2 separate regions of the Homo sapiens genome follow, and region 2 is linked to region 1. The links come from fine-mapping of genetic effects on gene expression. A gene starts in region 1. The other region holds a variant in brackets. All regions are shown on one strand. Distances are between the middles of the regions.

Region 1 (2,908 bases):
GTAAGTGTGGGAACAAGGCTGGGGACTGTGCAGCCGGCGCATGGGAAGGCCCCAAATCCTCAATCCAATCAGTTCCCAACGCTTTCCTGCTTAAATGGACCGCCACGGCGTGTGTTTTGAGCGTTCACCTACCCTCATCCGCGTCGTACATATTGCCAAACGGTTCTCGAGCTCCTAACTCTTGAAATCAAAAGACAAAAACCGCCCAGAAGCCAGCAGCGCCAGGAGCTAAAGACGAAGTAACTTCCGTCTCCGACGTTCCCAGAATACCACGCGTCTCACACCAAAGGCCGCCCACAGGGACGCCAAAGTTAGGATCTGCGCCTGCGCAAATTGTAGGTCAAGCTTGGGCCGGGGTTAGGGTTGCACACGCGTAAATTGTGGGCCGCCGCTGCCGGGCTGATTGAGAGGACAGCTCCCGCAATCTGCGGTCGTATCCGTTCCGTCAATGTTTTATTTCTGCTTGTTTTTCAATGTTGTTGCACAAATAACGACACCTGAAAACAAAACCAGGTATACTTATTATTAAAAAGTGTTCGTCCTGTGAATCCGCAACATTGGGATGCTCAATTTATTTGCCTTTATAAGGACCAAAACACGAAGCTATTTTTTATTTTTATTTATTTATTATTTTTTGAAATGGAGTCTCGCTCTGTCGCCCAGGCTGGAGTGCAGTGGAGCGATCTCGGCTCACTGCAACCTCCGTCTCCCGGGTTCAAGCGATTCTCCTGCCTCGGCCTCCCAAATAGCTGGGATTACAGGCAAGGGTCACCACGCCCGGGTAATTTTTGTATTTTTAGTAGAGACGGGGTTTCACCACGTTGGCCAGGCTGGTCTCGAACTGCTGACCTCAGGTGATCCACCCGCCTCGGCCTCCCAAAGTGCTGGGATTACAGGCGTGAGCCACGCGCCCGGCCGGAAGCTCCTTTCTGTTTTTGTTTTGTTTTGTTTTTTTGAGACAGGCTCGCTCTGTCGCCCAGGCTGGAGTGCAGTGGCGCGATCTCGGCTCACTGCAACCTCCGCCTCCCGCGTTCAAGCCATTCTCCTGCCTCAGCCTCCCGAGTAGCTGGGACTACAGGCGCCCGCCACCACGCCTGGCTAATTTTTTGTATTTTTAGCAGAGATGGGGGTTTCACCGTGTAAGCCAGGATGGTCTCGATCTCCTGACCTCATGATCCGCCCGCCTCGGCCTCCCAAATTGCTGGGATTACAGGCGTGAGCCACCGCGCCCGACCCCGGAAGCTCCTTTTTAAGTGTGATTTATTAAGGGCGGCTTGTGCTAGCAGTGAGGCGTTAAGCCTGAAAGTGAAAAAACCCAAAACACTCACTGCTCTTTTCTGCCCACCTAGCTCAATCCTCCAGTGCCTTTGCCATAGCTTTAAGTAGGTTCTCAGTCTCAGAGCTTAAATCGCGAGAACTGACGGGATTAGACGCAAAACCAACCAGGACAGCTCCCAAGTACCCACGCGCTTTCGTCTCGGGTCAAATGCGCGCCTCGGACCCTAGTGCGCGTGCGCGCTGGTGGCTCCGCCCCTTTGGAGCTACTTCCTCATGCTGCCCGCTCGCCTACCGTTCAGGCTGCTGAGCCTTTTCCTTCGTGGATCCGCTCCCACGGCAGCGCGCCATGGCCTCCGGGAGCCGCTCCTGGAGAGGAGGTGCGCTGCCGCCTCCTCCTTCCAGCACTCATCGAGTCTGGGACGCGAGCTTCCTTATGACCCCGTGGACACGGAGGGCTTTGGAGAAGGTGGTGACATGCAGGAGCGTTTTCTGTTCCCGGAGTACATCCTGGATCCGGAGCCGCAACCCACCCGCGAAAAGCAGCTGCAGGAGCTCCAGCAACAGCAGGAGGAGGAGGAGCGACAGAGGCAGCAGCGGCGGGAGGAGCGGCGACAGCAAAACCTACGGGCCAGGTCCCGGGAGCACCCGGTCGTGGGGCACCCGGACCCGGCATTGCCGCCCAGCGGCGTGAACTGCTCGGGCTGTGGGGCAGAGCTGCACTGCCAGGACGCCGGAGTGCCCGGCTACCTGCCCCGAGAGAAGTTCCTCCGCACGGCGGAGGCAGACGGCGGGCTGGCACGGACCGTGTGCCAGCGCTGCTGGCTGCTGTCGCACCACCGGCGCGCTCTACGCCTGCAGGTGAGCCGCGAGCAGTACCTGGAGCTGGTGAGCGCCGCGTTGCGGCGGCCCGGCCCCTCCCTGGTGCTCTACATGGTGGACCTGCTGGACCTGCCCGACGCCCTGCTGCCCGACTTGCCCGCGCTGGTGGGCCCCAAGCAGCTGATCGTGCTGGGAAACAAAGTGGACCTCCTGCCCCAGGATGCTCCTGGCTACCGGCAGAGGCTGCGGGAGCGACTGTGGGAGGACTGTGCCCGCGCCGGGCTCCTGCTGGCCCCTGGCCACCAAGGGCCACAGCGCCCCGTCAAGGACGAGCCACAGGACGGGGAGAATCCGAATCCGCCGAACTGGTCCCGCACAGTGGTCAGGGACGTGCGGCTGATCAGCGCCAAGACCGGCTATGGAGTGGAAGAGTTGATCTCTGCCCTTCAGCGCTCCTGGCGCTACCGTGGGGACGTCTACTTAGTGGGCGCCACCAACGCCGGCAAATCCACTCTCTTTAACACGCTCCTGGAGTCCGATTACTGCACTGCCAAGGGCTCCGAGGCCATCGACAGAGCCACCATCTCCCCTTGGCCAGGTGAGTTTTAGGAGGCTCGCCCTCTTCGTTTCCTGGCAAGGTGGACGTCTGGTCCTGGCCGAGGCACCGAGTACATCCTCCCTTAATGTCCACTGCGGGCTGCCTGTACCCTTCCCTTTACAAATTCTCTCCCCACTCTGGTCACACCTCTCTTCTGTGTCAGCTTACTGCTAGGGAAAATTGAGGATGTGTTGTAGTAATTTTCAATGGAAG
Region 2 (2,908 bases), 120 kb after region 1:
TATTAAAAATTTAACAGATTTTTTTAAATTAAAAGGATTGAGAATTTAAAAACATAACAAAATAAGCATAACAAATAGTCTTGTTTTGTTTTTTAATAGAGACAGCATTTTGCCATGTTGCCCAGGCTGGTCTTGAACTCCTGGACTCAAGGGATTTGCCCACCTCAGCCTCCCAAAGTTGCTGAGATTACAGGCATGAGCCACCGCACCCAGCCACAGATAGTTTCTTTACTTTAATAATATGATGTATGTCTTCATTTTTTATTTTTAATTAAAATTTTTTTTAAGATTATTAGAGATGGGGTCTCACTATATTGACCAAGTTGGTCTTGAACTCTTGGCCTCAAGCATTCCTCCTACCTTGGCCTCCCAAAGTGCTAGGATTACAGGCATGAGCCACCATGCCTGTTTTTGCCATGTTGGCCAGGCTGTTCTTGAACTCCTGGCCTCAAGTGATCCACCTGCCTCTTGGCTCCCAAAGTGCTGGGATTACAGATGTGAGCCACCACACCCAGCTGGCGATGTTAATTTTGGATACATAGACAAGATGTTGTCCAGTTTCTCCACTATTTTGCGCCATACAATTAGTTTTATTTTATTTTTATTTTTTATTTCTGTGTGCAATTAATAAGCAATCAATGGCAAGATATTTTGAGACCAGGCCAGGCGCAGTGGCTCAAGCCTGTAATCCTAGCACTTTGGGAGGCCAAGGCGGGCAGATCATTTGAGATCAGGAGTTCAAGACCAGCCTGGCCAACATGGCAAAACCCCGTCTCTACCAAAAATTCAAAAATTAGCTGGGCATAATGGTGGGCACCTATAATTCCAGCTACTTGGGAGGCTGAGGCATGAGAATTGCTTGAATCCAGAAGGCAGAGATTGCAGTGAGTCGAGATTGCACTACTGCACTCCAGCCTGGGCAATAGAGTGAGACTCGGTCTCAAAAACAAAAAACAAAACAAAACAAAACAAAACAAAAGATATTTTGAGACCATGAAAGTGTCTAGAAATTTCTTAATGCTTATCTTTTGTACATTTTACTGTTTGGTTTTGAATTTTCTCTTGATTTTTCTGCTATTCACAGTTATTATAAAGACAGCATTAAATGTCTAAATGTTGAGAAATTACTTAATGGGTACAATGTACACTATATTGGCCAGGTTGGTCAATCAACCCACACTATTTGGTTGATAGTTATACTAAAAGCCCAGATTTCACCACTATGCAATATATCCACGTATCAAAACTGCACTTGTACTCCTTACTTTTATACAAATAAAAATAAATAGGCGAGGCGTGGTGGCTCACGCCTATAATCCTAGCACTTTGGGAGGCCAAGGTGGGTGGATCACTTGAGGTTAGGAGTTCAAGACTAGCCTGACCAACGTGGTGAAACCCCATCTCTACTAAAAATACAAAAATTAGCCAGGCATGATGGCGCATGCCTGTAATCCCAGGTACTCAGGAGGCTAAGGGAGGAGAATTGCTTGAACCTGGGAGGCAGAGGCTGCAGTGAACCTAAATGTCCAGCTATTAGGGTGTATGATACAACTCCATAATTATTTTAGTCCTTTTAGTTCTGTTCTGTTCTGTTCTGTTCT[T/G]TTCTTTTCTTTTAGAGACGGGGTCTCACTATGTTGCCCAAGCTGGTCTCGAACTCCTGGGCTCAAGTGATCCTCCTGCCTTGGCCTTCTAAAGTGGTAGGACTGCAAACGTAAGCCACTGTGCCTGGCCAATTCCATAATTATTGTTATTTATTATTTATTATTATTATTTTTAAGACAGAATTTCGCTCTTGTTACCCAAACTGGAATGCAATGGCGCGATCTTTGCTCACCAGAACCTCTGCCTCCTAGGTTCAAGCGATTCTCCTGCCTCAGCCTCCTGAGTAGCTGGGATTACAGGCACGCACCACCACGCTCAGCTAATTTTGTATTTTTAGTAGAGACCGGGTCTTGCCATGTTGGCATGTTGGTCAGGCTGGTCTTGAATTCCCCATGTCAACCTCCCAAAGTGCTGGCATTACAGGCGTACAGGCATGAGCCACTGTGCCTGGTCCTTTTTTTTTTTTTTTTTTTTTTTGAGATGGAGTCTCACTCTATTGCCAGGCTGGAGTGCAATGGATGACACTATCTCAGCTCACTGCAACCTCTGCCTCCTGGGTTCAAGATATCCTCCTGCCTCAGCTTCCCAAGTGGCTGGGATTACAGGTGCGCATCACCACACCCAGCTACTTTTTTCTATTTTTAGTAGAGACGGGTTTCACCATGTTCACCAAGCTAGTCTTGAACTCCTGACCTCAAGTGATCTGCCCGCCTCGGCCTTCCAAAGTGCTGGGATTACAGGCATGAGCCACCGTGCCCAGCCGAAAAGCATTCTTATGATGGCTTGTGTTTTTTATAAGATGTCAATGCCATGACAGACTCTGACAGGAACCATGCAGTAGGAAGGAGCCTGGTCCTGCTCCCCCATCCTCCTTCACATGTTTCTCTAGTGCCCCCTACTAACTGACCCTAACAGAAGCTGGCTGACAAAGAATAAATGTAGTTTGTAGAGTTCTAGACTCACCATCTCAAAGTCCAGCATGGAGGTTTCAAAACCACTGGCATGGGCCGGGCGCGGTGGCTCATACCTGTAATCCCAGCACTTTGGGAGGCCAAGGCAGGTGGTTCACAAGGTCAGGAGTTCAAGACCAGCCTGGCCAAGATGGTAAAACTTTGTCTCTACTAAAAATACAAAAAAAATTAGCTGGGTGTGGTGGCAGGCGCCTGGCACCTGTAATCCCAGCTACTTGGCAGGCTGAAGCAGAGAGGTTGGCCTGGGCAACAGAGCGAGATTCCGTCTGAAAAAAAAAAATCCACTGGCATATAGGATTCAAGGTACTGGGAAAGTAATTCTGGGTTTGGAGCTG

Alleles and levels. Positions count from the first base shown, and alleles are read on the strand shown. Sizes are in standard deviations (SD) of each study's normalised expression.
For the expression in aorta of the gene that starts at base 1,531 in region 1, T is the low allele of the variant in region 2 and G is the other (small effect, 0.22 SD a copy in GTEx).

What was found. PIP is the estimated chance that this variant, and not a neighbour inherited with it, causes the effect.
Region 2: its variant is fine-mapped to the expression of NOA1 in aorta (GTEx, PIP 0.97).

Annotation. Positions count from the first base shown.
Region 1 is chr4:56,976,229-56,979,136 of GRCh38, reverse strand. It overlaps NOA1 (nitric oxide associated 1), which reads left to right and starts at 1,531. Exons shown (of 7, transcript NM_032313.4): 1 at 1,531-2,695. The coding sequence starts at 1,552. It overlaps POLR2B (RNA polymerase II subunit B), which reads right to left and starts at 241. Exons shown (of 25, transcript NM_000938.3): 1 at 133-241. The coding sequence starts at 151. RefSeq lists enhancers at 1,789-1,858, 2,239-2,298 and a silencer at 1,959-2,038.
Region 2 is chr4:56,852,294-56,855,201 of GRCh38, reverse strand. No RefSeq gene overlaps it. Among named protein-coding and RNA genes, the nearest start is that of SPINK2, 32 kb to the right of the region's middle. The variant T/G (reference allele first, on the strand shown) is at 1,602.